Homo sapiens: one gene and its partners. The protein of the gene in region 4 purifies or fractionates together with the protein of the main gene of each other region. This does not show direct contact. Each region holds a gene or a part of one and is shown on either strand. Other genes may lie near its edges.

Region 1 (3,425 bases), on a different chromosome or scaffold from region 4:
CCAGGAAAGAGAAGCAGCCCATATTTCAGGCAGAGGAGCAGGCTGTCATTTCCTCTTAGATGACATGCCAAGTTTCCAGAAAATCGCCCCCAAAAAATCAATATGGGACAGATTTGCTAGTGAGTCCACCAACACCCACCATCACAGGTACACAAAGGCAGGTGATCGAAGGGAGGAAAAAAAAGATATCCATGGGAGGAATGACAGTCTTCAAGCTCTGAAAACAAGTGGGTGTGCTTGCTGTGGGTGGGGGGAGATGGGGGTAGTGAGAAGAAACCTTTGAGCTTTCCCCAAAAAAGGTTATCCCTTCTCTCAGGGATAAACTTTTTGAAGTCCCTTAGAATTTTTTTTAATCCAAGATCTCCTTTATCTATTTTTGTAGAAATAACCTCAAGTCCTGGAAAAAAATGCCTTTTTAGAAAACGATACTGTGGATTCATCAGAATTTAACGTGGCAGACTTAAGCACACAAAATAGGTGACTGACAATAAACCAGATGATACAATTCAAACTTTTATTTGGCAATAAGTTCAGAGTCACATAACACATAAAATCAACATTTAAAATAAATAGCAAATTCACATCTAGAATAAATAGGTCTGCCTAATTTGCATTAATTGTGCCTGATATCATACAGGCACAATCTGTCATTCCACGAGATAACTGGAAAAGTCTCCAAAGTCAGAGTTCAAACCTGCAGGACTGAAAACACACAGAAGCACTGTCGCAGGTTGGGTTCCCCGAAAGCAGATACTGAGGTGGAGAATGGCGTGCAGGAAGGTTCATAGGACAGTGCTGTGGGCTGAGCCGGCTGGGTACAGGCTTGTCAGGGAGAGGCACTGGGCTGTAATGTGGCCACAATGAGGTCTCACTGACCCCACAAGGGGCTCTGGAGCTGGGATGGCCCCAGAGGGTTTCCCAAGTTGGGGTGAGGAGGCCAGCCCTTTGTACCCCATATGGAGCCGGTAAGGGTTACAGGCAGGAAGGGGGTATGATCTGGGGCAGGCAGGGCTCTTCAGCAGGGGAAACTCCTCATAAGGGCTGGAAGTAAATGGCCAGCCAGCAGCACTCCCAGCTGTTAGGGGAGTATGTCCTTCAGTCTGGAAAGGTCATCCGGGCAGCTGAGCTCAGCACCCAGCACTAGCACAATTACAAACTAATGCAATGAGAGGTATATTCAACAAGTGTCTGAGCCTGATGGCTCAAGTACACACACTGGCCATACATGTAACTATGCCCAGGAAGTAGCTCAGAGGGAATACAGTGCACTTATTACCTACAGAACTTTCTCCTCTCTGCATCCCAGCTATAAGGTTATTCATCTGCATGTTCTCAGCAAGGGAATCTTGCCATTGCCGCCAACACAATCCATTAGAGCAGGGGCTAGCAAGCCACAGCCTGAGGACCAAATACAGCCCACAGCTTGTCTTGGTAAATCAAGTTGTGCTGGAACACAGCCATGACCATGGTCATTCCCACAGTAGTAGTAGCAAAAGCAAACAGCCCAAAAAGCCAAAAATACTTCCTATCTGGCCTTTTACAGGAAAAGTTTGCTGACCCTGCATTAAGGGTACTTCATTCCCTACCCTTTCTTGAACGCACTAGCAGTGTCAAAGGTTAGCTGAACTTTGAGCTAAGCTCCTAAATGACACTAGTAGTGTCAAAGATTACTGTTACTAAATGACACTAGTAGTGTCAAAGGTTAGCTGAACTTTGAGCTAAGCTCCTAAGGCAAAAAAGAAAGAAAGAAAAACCTGGTACAAAAGAAAGTCGATATTAAGAAGGCAAAATGTAGGTTCTCTATTAGTTGAACAGAACAATCAAGGAACCCTGTGTCTGGCCAAATTTCGTCTTAGAGCATTCTAGACAAGGAGCCCCAAGTGGTCTTTGGCAGCAAATGAGCAGGCAGAAAAGTGGAATTCAGTTCCAGTATTTAGCCCAGTCTCTGCTGCTTAAAAGGCCTTTTGAGAAGAGGACAGAAGAAAAGCCACTTAGTTTGCCCAAAGCTAAATTAACTAGGACCACAAGACTACTTTTCAATTCTCCTTTGCAATAATTAAGAGTGCCAATGCATTCAAAGCAACTAGTAATTGTAGTCTGTAATATGCCCAAATCAGTAGCAAGTGGTTTATGTTACATAATATTAATGGGAATAGCAGAAAATAGTGCCGAAGGGTAAAATGTTTTAAAAAACAGACAGGCACTATGTTAGGGGGAAAGTGGGAGCTCTAAGCCAAACAACTAAAGTATTTCAAAAGCCACGTTTCACCCGTAAAAACAACACTGGAAAAAGAAAATCAGCTGTGCAAGTCCCTTCCAAAGGGACCTCCATGGGCCTTGCTGGACTGTCATATTTGTGATGGCTGCTGCCCTGGACTCATCATTGTTCACATAATTCTTAGAAAATCAGTCAAACAATATTAAACAGTAATTTTTAAATGTTCAAGCTATTTTTGTTTGCTTTACAACACAATTTTTTAAATGGCTGAAAACAGATTCATTTCCCTTGTACCAATATGCATTCATCAATGTGCACATCAGAGAACAAAACACCCAGTGCAGTGTGCCAGATCCCAGTTGAGTCATGATAGGCTGGGCACGGTGGCTCATGCCTGTAATCCCAGCACCTTGGGAGGCCAAGGCAGGTGGATTACCCAAGGTCAGGAGTTCGAGACCAGCCTGGCCAACATGGTGAAACCCCGTCTCTACTAAAAATACAAAAAAATTAGCTGGATGTGGTGGTGGGCACCTGTAATCCCAGCTACTCGGGAGGCTGAGGCAGGAGAATCACTTGAACCCAGGAGGCGGAGGTTGGAGTGAGCCAAGATCGTGCCATTGCACTCCGGCCTGGGCAAAAAGAGCAAAACTAAATCTCAAAAAAAAAAAAAAAAAAAAAGAGAAAAGAGTCATGACGAGGCCAGGCATGACAGTGGCTCACACCCAGAATCCCAGCACTTTGGAAGGCTGAGGTGGGCAGAACACTTGAGGCTAGGAGTTTGAGACCAGCCTGGCCAACATGGTGAAACCCCATCTCTATTAAAACTACAAAACTTGGCCAGGCCTGGTGGCATGTACCAGTAGTCCCAGCTACTCGGGAGGCTGAGGCACGAAAATTGCTTGAACCTGGGAGGCAAGAGGTTGCAGTGAGCCGAGATCACACCACTGCACTCCAGAATGGGCAACAGAGCGAGACCTTGCCTCAAAAAAAAAAAAAAAAAGTCATGACAGCGACAAGTTAAAATCTGTCCTGACTGAGTATATACAAGGATTAATAATAAAGTGGGATGTGCCTCCATCGTTCACATGGGAATGACTGTGTTCGGCCCCGTTACCGCCACGACATGGGTCTACAGTCTGCAAGGTACACAGTCAGTGAGCCTTGGTGGCCCAGATGTCAGGCTTCTGTCACATGGGAGATCTCAACA
Region 2 (2,296 bases), on a different chromosome or scaffold from region 4:
CTGGGATAGTTTAGACTAAACATGGGTGTGGTTAGAGTACAGTAATTACTGTGAAAAAAGCAAGGTTCCTGGACATTTAAATTTTTTTCTTTTTTTTGAAACATGGTCTCACCCTGTTGCTGAGGCTGGAGTTCAGTGGTGTGATCATGACTCATTGCAGCCTCAATCTTCCAGGCTGAAGTGATCCTTCTTTCTCAGCCTCCTGAGTAGCTGGGACTACAACCACACACCACCATTCTTAGCTAATCTTTTTAATTTTTAGTAGAAATCAGGTCTCACCATGTTGCCCAGGGTGGTCTTTAACTCCTGAGCTCAGGCAATCCTCCCACATCGGCCTCCCAAAGTGCTGGAATTAGAGGCATGAGCCACTGCACCTGACCCTGACATTTCGATTTTTAAAAATTTTGTTGAAAAACGTCACACACACACACACACACACACACACACACACCTGCTTCAAAGAGGATTTTTAAAAACAATGGTGGCTCGGCTAGAAAAGATACTAATTTTCAACCTTTATTTCAAAGTTTATTTATAAAGGAAATACAAATTTTGATAAACAAAGCACCCAATTCCTACTTATTTTTTTTCTTCGTGGAAAAAAAAGTATGTGACACATACTTGTCATGCCCTGTATTGATTAAGCTTACAAAAGATATTGACAGAAACTATACAAATCTAGAATTTAGAGTGCTAGGAATGTTGCCATAAGGTATGTGTACCTACATTAATACTAAATAAATTCCACCTACATCCTTTCTTTCACCCTTTCCCAGTATCATTTCAGCTTTCCTCACAGTCTCACTGTCCCAGAAGTCTAGGGGCAATGACTCTCCATCACTAGTGCTGTGGTGGCACCTGTGCTCCCACATCCTGATATCCTACCCCTACGGCAATCCTTTGAGAAGCACCTGAAAACACCAGTGACCTAGCTTTATTAGATTCCTCGAAGGGAAGGTACCTGGCATGCAGCCTCAGCTCCTACCAAGGAGAGGAGAGGTTGAAGACTCTCCCAGTCTCCATTCACTCCTTTGCTTTGATACCCGTTAGGCCTGCTTTGCCTCCTTAATAGACTCCTGGAATGGGAAGGGGTGGGGGTGGGGAGCGACTGGAGAACTCTTTTCCTAGGATGACTGGAGCCAGGAAGTCAGTCTGGAAACTTCCCCACCCCCTGGTGGTGCACAGCACACAAGATGGCCTGTGTTCCGCTCAGGGGTGGGACTTTCAATTTACAGCCTAGGTGAAGGGAGATGAGTTGGGGCAACAGCGATTCTGTTCATTGGAACAGACTGGGTGGTAACTGCAGGCCACTGCAGTTGACCTGTTGGCATTCGAGGTCTGACGACCTTCAGGTAAATGCTCTTATGATCAGTGGACCAAAGGAGCAACGGTGGAGGGTGAGGAACAGCACACTTTACCAATGAAAGTCGTGACCAGGCCACGTTAGTTTAGTGGTAAAAATAATAACATTAAAGAAAATGTTTACAACAGGAATAGAAAATGACAGAACCCTACTGCTTTAACTCAAGTGTATCACGATCTCTGCCTTCATCCACTTGAGACTTAAAACTCAGTGTCTGCTATTTTTACTTAACATTATCCCAAGCAATAGTAACATGAAAGTTATGACCAGGAGGGAAGCAGGGTCGCACCTGTGCAGGGTCCTTGTCTGCGGACCACCCCTCCTACAAGCTTCTGGGTAATAGAGGTAAGGGGGCTCCTGTGGTGGGTGCCAGTGCTGGGACCTTAACTTGTGTATCTGGGCTATAGCCCTGGACTTGGCTAGGCTGGGCTGTGTGAAAATTCCAAGAATTCTGTTGGTAGAAAATGCCCACCCTGTCCTTACAGGAACAGCACAAGGCTAGGCTTGTCTACCTCCCACCAGGACCTCGAAGGAACATGACCCAGGGGCTGAAGGATGGTGTTGAAGGACCGAGTTTTACTCAGATCCTTCTCAGCCCTGCCTTCCTGAAGTTTCTGTATCCACTACACTGGAAGCTTTCTGAAAAAAATGCCTGGAACCTGTCCATTGTTACCCCAGCCCAGGGCCCAGCCAAAGAACTTAACAAATAACCGCCAAGGAAATCCTCACCTAAAATGGCTGCGATGCATTACTGCCCCCGCCTCTGGCTTACAGTATCACTTCTGCATCTGAAACCAGGAGGGGGCAGTCTGGGTCCACGACGAGACATTTCCTTCTAGAGAAAATCACACCTGCAAAGACCCTCTCCAGAGCCACCGCCCACCTCCGCGCAGCCATCCATTCCCTGCGAAGATGCTTTGGGCTGAAAATGGT
Region 3 (3,328 bases), on a different chromosome or scaffold from region 4:
GGTGTAAATCCCAGGCCTGGAAGCTCCTACCCAACCCTCATTTGTTTCAACTCACTTTCAATATGTGCATAGTTTCATAAAGCAGACATTTCCATGAGGAAAAGAGGATGGTGGTGAAAGGGGAGGGGTGAAGGGACATCTCCAAGTCACAGAGGCTGCAAAACTCAGCATGACTTGTGGACGGAGCCACAGGCCACCCAGGGCAACAACACCCACATAACTCACCAAGTGGTTAACGGCTCTAAACCAGGGTCAACAGGAGAGGGGACAAAAGTCACTCCTTGATTTTGCTGCAGCTTAAAGATAAGTTCTACCTCAGCTTATGCTAGCCCTTATGGGGCAAAAAAGGGAAAGTCATTCTCCCCAAGTCCAGGCTGGGCCGTCAAACAGGGAGTGGGGTGTCAGCCCCAGACCTCAATGAGGTCCCCAGATTCCATGCCCAGGTCAGCTGGCAGCTCCCTGCCTGAAAGCTTTGTCCCATCAAAGAAGAAGGAGAGCTTCCGTCCCGACAGTCCCATGGCCTCCTCATAGTGGGACATGAGGGTCTTTAGAGGGGAATCCTGGATGGAGACAAAAGAAAATGGACGTCAGAACATGAAAGGGGGCGGGGATCCCGTAGGGATAGACGAGGAACTTGGGACAGGGAGGATGGCGGCAGGGGCGGAAACAATAAAGTCAGGGCCCCATGCGGGGAAAGGAGAGAGGACAAAGAAGCCAGCCCAGCCAGGCTCCTCTCTGGGAGCTGGGACGAATCCTGTCATCCCTCTGGGCTCCAAGTTGCTCAGGTAGAGGACGGGGGCCACGAGCCCAAGGCTTAGGGGTATAGGCTCTAAGTCAGGCAAGTCCTCCTAGCCTCAGCCTCCTTCCCTATGAAACAGAAGTGTGTACCAATGACTAAGAGAGCCCAGATTCTAGAGTGAGGATGAGTCGAGCTGGAGGCCAGGCTCTCCCACCTATTAGATATGTGACCTTAGAAAAATGTTACAGGTTATGTTCCCCAGAGAAGACACCTTGTGGTCTTAACCCCTGTTAAGTGTGAATGTGATGTGATTTGGAGACGGGGCCTTTGCAGATGCAATCAAGTTGAGGTTGTACTGGATTGGGACGAGTGCTAATGCCGTGGGACTGGTAGACAACTCACTGCAACCTCTGCCTCCTGGGTTCAAGCAATTCTCCTGCCTCAGCCTCCTGAGTAGCTGCAACTACAGGCACAGGCCACCACACCCAGCTAAGTTTTTGTATTTTTGGTAGAGACAGTTTCTCTGTTGCCCAAGCTGGTCTCAAACTTCCTGAGTTCAGATAAGCCACCCACTTTGGCCTCCCAAAGTGCTGGGATGACAGGCGTGAGCCCCCGCACCCAGCCTGGGACTGGTATGCTTATGGAACAGACACAGAAACAGACATGAGGGGAGAACACACGTGATGACAGAGGCAGAATGGAGTGCACCTGCAAGCCAAGAATGCCAAGGACTGTGGGCCGCCAGCAGGAGCCAGGAGGAGACAGGGCAGATTCCATGAAGAGACCCTGAGGGACTGCGTGATGTTGTCAAATATATATTTGGTCTTTGTATGTTTCCTGGTATAAAATTCCTAAAATCCCTGGGAAAGAGTTAAGTATCTTTTTGCATGCTAATGAGTTGACTGGTGGCTGGCAGCCCCTAGAGAGCTTCAGGAATGGTGCTGGTCACTAGAAAGACCAAGGTAGGATAAGACAGTTGGGACTTTTTCCCCACCCCTCAACCTCCAAGAAGGAGGGAGAGAGTGAAGGTTGAGTCACCACCAATAGCCCATGGTTTAATCAGTCATGCCTATATAACAAAGCTTCCATAAAAATCCAGAGGACAGGGTTTGGAGAACTTCCCAATAGTTGAACATGTGGTGATTCCTGGAGAATGGTGCCCAGGGAAGCTATGGAAGCTCTGCGCCCTTTTCCCATGCTGTGCCCTACACATCTCTTCATCTGTATCCTTTGTAACATCCTTTATAATAAACCAGTAAATGAAAGTAAGTGTCTCCCTGAGTTCTGTAAGCTGCTCTAGCAAATTAAACCCAAGGAGGGGGCGAGGTGCAGTGGCTCATGCCTGTAATCCCAACACTCTGGGAGGCAGAGGTGGGAGGATCAGTTGAGCCCAGGAGTTTGAGTCCAGCCTGGGCAACATAGTGAGACCCCGTCTACACAAAAAAAATTAAAAAATTAGCCAAGGGTAGTGGCACACACCTGTAGTCCCAACTACTCAGGAGGCTGAGGTAGAAGGATCGCTTGAGCCCAGGAGTTTGAGGCTGTGGTAAGCCAAGATCGCACCACTGCACTCCAGCCTGGGCAACAGAGCAAGACCCTGTCTTTTTTTTTTTTTTTTTTTTTTTTGAGACGAAGTCTAGCTCTGTCGCCCAGGCTGGAGTGCAGTGGCTTGATCTTGGCTCACTGCAACCTCCGCCTCCCAGGTTCAAGCGATTCTTCTGCCTCAGCCTCCTGAGTAGCTGGGACTATAGGCGCATGCCACCATGCCCGGCTAATTTTTTGTATTTTTAGTAGAGACAGGGTTTCACCATGTTGATCAGACTGGTCTTGAACTCCTGACCTCGTGATCCGCCCACCTCAGCCTCCCAAAGTGCTGGGATTACAGGCGTGAGCCACCACGTCTGGCCCTGTCTCTTTTTTGTTTTTTTCAAAAGAAAAGAAAAAAATCCTGAGTTTGTTTTCTTCCCCCATATCTTCAGAGACACTTGCTCTGCTAACACCTTGATTTCAGACTTCTACCCTCCAGAACAATGAGAGAATAAATTTATGTTGTTTTAAGCCACCCAACTTGTGGTACTTTGTTACAACAGCCAAAATACAAAAGTGGGGTGCTGCTGGAATAAATGGTTAAATGTAACAGTGGCTTTGAAATTGGATCAGGGCTGGAATAATTTTTTTTTTTTTTTTTTTTTTTTTTTTTCAGATAGGGTCTTGCTGTCTCCCAGGCTGGAGTGCAGTGGCCCAATCTCAGCTCACTGCAGCCTCAATCTCCTAGGCACAAGCGATCCTCACACCTCAGCCTCCTGGGTAGCTGGAACTATAGGCCTGCGCCAGCATGCTGGGCTAATTTTTGTATTTTTTGTAGAGGCAGGGTTTCACTATGTTGCCCGGGCTGGTCTTGAACTCCTGAGCTCAAGCAATCTGTCCATGTTGGCCTCTCAAAGTGTTAGGATTACAGATGTGAGGCACTGTGCCTGGCCAAAGCTGCAAGAATTTTGAGGTGTATGTTAGGAAAAACCTAGACTGCCTTGAAGAGACTGCTGGTAGAAATATGGACATTAAAGGGAATGTCCCTGCAGGCTCACAAAG
Region 4 (3,500 bases):
AACAAATCCTTGACCTATTTTACGTAACAGGTTTAAGTGTAAGATTTTCAGTTGAAAAAGGGGTTCTGGGGCTAGTAAAAGTTTGAAAACTATGTTTAAAATACAAGCTCCCAGCCAGGCGCAGTGGCTCATGCCTGTAATCCCAGCACTTTGGGAGGCTGAGGTGGGCAGATCACAAGGTCAGGAATTCAAGACCAGCCTGGCCAATATGGTGAAATCCCATCTGTACTAAAAAACACAAAAATTAGCCAGGCATGGTGGTGGGCACCTGTAGTCCCAGCTACTCGGGAGGCTGAGGCAGGAGAATCGCTTGAACCCGGGAGGTGGAGGTCCCGGGAGGTGGAGGTTGCAGTGAGCCGAGTTTACACCACTGCACTCTAGCCTAGGAGACAGAGTGAGACTCTGTCTCCAAAAAAAAAAAAAAAAAAAAGGGGGGGCTCCCCTCTGTTACAAGAATTCACATTCCATTGATGACAAAAGCCTCACTATCAGTCACTTTCCTCATAAGGGCCAATGGCAGAATTTTATTTACTCATTAAAGTAATCTTTTCCTCTAACTCCAGATTCTGCCTCAAATTCCTTTCTAATGTGGTACTTCCAGATGAAAACAACTTGCCCTATAATATCTTTGCTAAATATTAGGCATTTGCATTCACTTAACTAAAACAGTATGTAAAATACATTAATAAGAAGCTGAAAACTGTTTAAGGAATTACATTAATAAAGGGATGTAAAGCTAGGTATAATTTTAAAAGTTATCCCTTTAAGTGATAACCTCTGACAAAAAAACTAGAGCTGAACACCTAATAAAAAAGAAAAATAGGTAAATCATTTGGATCTCATACTCTAGTCTTTTTAAAAACGCCGGAGGACTGCTTATGCCCAGGAGGTTGTGGCTGCAGTGAGCTTTGATTACACCATCACACTCCAGCCTGGGCGACAGTGCAAGACTCTGTCTCGGAAAAAAAAGTTTCTAGTTAAATATTCTAAAATAAGATAAACATTATCTCATTAGAAAATAAAAACAAACAAAAACTAAAAAATCTATCTCATTAGCAGGAGATGTTTCACCTTAACAGAAATCATAAGAGTTAAAAGCCTACTTTGTCTTAGGACCATATCTATTAAAAATAGAACATTCTTAAGCTATTATGTAAAAACCAGTATGAATCCACGGGTGTTCCACATTTCAAACTTACATATTCTATTATGAATAAATGAAAATACACTGAACATACTTTCTGCTTTTCAGGAACATCCTCAAGTGCTATTTTTCTCTTATTTTGAGTGCCATCTCCAGTAGAAGATTTATCTTTTGGAACATCCTCAGTTTCTCTTTTTCTTTTCTTTGAATTGCCTTCAGCATCACCACAATCTTTTTCCTCTGGGACAATTTCAGGATCAAGTTTTCTCTTCTTGGATGGAGTGTCTTTCCCACAACTAGAACTTTCCTTTACAAGATCATCTTCAAACTCTTTTCTCTTTCTTGCTATGTCTACTTGCCTACAGACAGAAGTCTTTTCAGAAAGCCCAGTCCCAGAAGCTGTTGTGTTTTCATTAATATTGAATGAAGACTCTGTTTCAGAATTCACTGACGCTTTTGCCTGTTCAAGAGACATCTTTTCATATTCTTCTGCTTTTGCAGAATTTGCCATTTATGATTACTTGAATTGATGGTAAAACTTCATGAACCAACACTAGAATAGGAAAAAAATTGGTATTACTTGTAAACACTAAGACTTTAAAACAATTTTTTTTTTTTTTGAGACGGAGTTTCACTCTTGTCGCCCAGGCTGGAGTGCAATGGCATGATCTCGGCTCACTGCAAGCTCCGCCTCTGGGGTTCAAGTGATTCTCCCGCCTCAGCCTCCCCAGTAGCTGGGATTACAGGCACCTGCCACCACGCCTGGCTAATTTTTTGTATGTTTAGCTGAGACGCGATTTCCCCACGTTGGGCAGGCTGGTCTCTAACTCCTGACCCCAGGTGATCCGCCTGCCTTGGCCTCCCAAAGTGCTGGGATTACAGGCGTAAGCCACTGCGCCTGGCCTAAAATAATTTTAACTAGAATTTGATCAACTAGGAGTTTAAAAAAATCTCATTGTAGAGAGCATATTAAAAAATGTTAACTGATACTATGTATGAATTTCTGAATATGGCAGTACTAATTATAATCCCCCCAAAATTCTATAATCTTATTCATAAAAGTCACTGTTGGCATTAAAGCTGACAAATGAAGTGGCGATACACATGCACTAGTTCCATTTTGGTTCTGATCCTTACTCTATAACCCTGGTTCCCAAACTGCATGGTTGGCACCATAACAAACAGGCACCACAGAACCTAATGTGGAAGATATCACAGAAACTACCAGCTTTAAGTACAGCACAGTTCCAGCTGAATAGATTACACTACATACCTTTCAATGACTTTGTGAAGCTGAGATTTTGGTATCACAGAAAATCAAGGTGAAACAGGAAATGAGGTTGGTGGTGCCTATCTGATTTCGAGGCTTGAAGTTGTACAGTACCCAATAGGTTCACACATCCTGTTAGTAAGGGATTGTGATTAATCAAGAATAAAACAGAAACATTACCTTTCCCCCCAATTTATGTGTGTTAATTTTTTAAACAGACATAAAGTTGTTAGACCATAAATACTTTTAAATTCTTTGGGGTAAACTACTTAATAAATGGAACTGTTATATTTCTTTTGGCCTATGGACACTAAGGGCATCAAGAACAGAAAAAGTTTGGGATTCTACAGCAAGAATTCTGAAATCGTATTTCATAATGGGTGTTCCAATTAGGTAGAAAGTGAAGAGAGTAGAAATGGCTTTAGACAAGTTTCAGGACTCAGCCTGCAGTTTGATGACCATTAAGTCTCTTTCAAATATGTTTTTAGACCTACATTAAGATGGGAAAGCGAGAGAAATAACTGAACTATCTATTGGGCAAGAATTATGGTGGTTCATTTATTAAGCCATTCAACAAATTTAGTGACCTCCTACTATGGAGAAGCTCAATGTAAATCATGTTTTCAAGATGTTTATAGCTTATATACCACTATTAAAATGTTAAGCTTTCGCTGGGCACAGTGGCTCACACCTGTAATCCCACCACTTTGGGGGAACGAGGTGGGCAGACTGCTTGAGCTCTGGAGTTCGAGACCAGGTTGGGCAACATGGCAAAATCCCGTCTCTACAAAAAATAGCTGGGCATGGTGGCACATGCCTTAGTCCCAGTTACTCAGCAGGCTGAAGTAGGAGGATCACCTGAGCCCAGGAGGTCCAGGCTGCAGTGAGCCATGATTGTGCCACTGTACTCCAGCCTAGACAACAAAGTGAGACCCCACTTAAAAAAAAAAAGCTTTTTCATGAAGGAAGTGTTTGTGCTTAAAAAAAAAAGTAAATAAATAAAAAGCCTTTTGGATAATGAAAAAGAATAAGAAATCAAGTTGCTTAAAGGAATGGGTAACAAGTCACTCACTATGAATGGGTAAG

What was found. Proteins that work in one complex are often made in the same cells at the same time.
Region 1: the proteins of RNMT (region 4) and NT5DC3 fractionate together in Homo sapiens (co-fractionation; one large-scale study listed by BioGRID). This does not show direct contact.
Region 2: the proteins of RNMT (region 4) and HEXA fractionate together in Homo sapiens (co-fractionation; one large-scale study listed by BioGRID). This does not show direct contact.
Region 3: the proteins of RNMT (region 4) and NFATC2IP fractionate together in Homo sapiens (co-fractionation; one large-scale study listed by BioGRID). This does not show direct contact.

The regions. Positions count from the first base shown.
Region 1 is NC_000012.12:103,771,810-103,775,234, forward strand, and holds the end of NT5DC3 (5'-nucleotidase domain-containing protein 3), read right to left. Parts: 3' UTR 501-3,425; downstream 1-500.
Region 2 is NC_000015.10:72,340,424-72,342,719, forward strand, and holds the end of HEXA (beta-hexosaminidase subunit alpha isoform 2 preproprotein), read right to left. Parts: 3' UTR 501-2,296; downstream 1-500. UniProt on the Homo sapiens protein: Hydrolyzes the non-reducing end N-acetyl-D-hexosamine and/or sulfated N-acetyl-D-hexosamine of glycoconjugates, such as the oligosaccharide moieties from proteins and neutral glycolipids, or from certain mucopolysaccharides.
Region 3 is NC_000016.10:28,960,937-28,964,264, reverse strand, and holds part of NFATC2IP (NFATC2-interacting protein), read right to left. Parts: intron 561-3,328; coding exon 402-560; 3' UTR 1-401. UniProt on the Homo sapiens protein: In T-helper 2 (Th2) cells, regulates the magnitude of NFAT-driven transcription of a specific subset of cytokine genes, including IL3, IL4, IL5 and IL13, but not IL2.
Region 4 is NC_000018.10:13,729,673-13,733,172, reverse strand, and holds part of RNMT (mRNA cap guanine-N(7) methyltransferase), read right to left. Parts: intron 2,547-3,500; 5' UTR 2,418-2,546; intron 1,698-2,417; 5' UTR 1,656-1,697; coding exon 1,239-1,655; intron 1-1,238. UniProt on the Homo sapiens protein: Catalytic subunit of the mRNA-capping methyltransferase RNMT:RAMAC complex that methylates the N7 position of the added guanosine to the 5'-cap structure of mRNAs. Binds RNA containing 5'-terminal GpppC.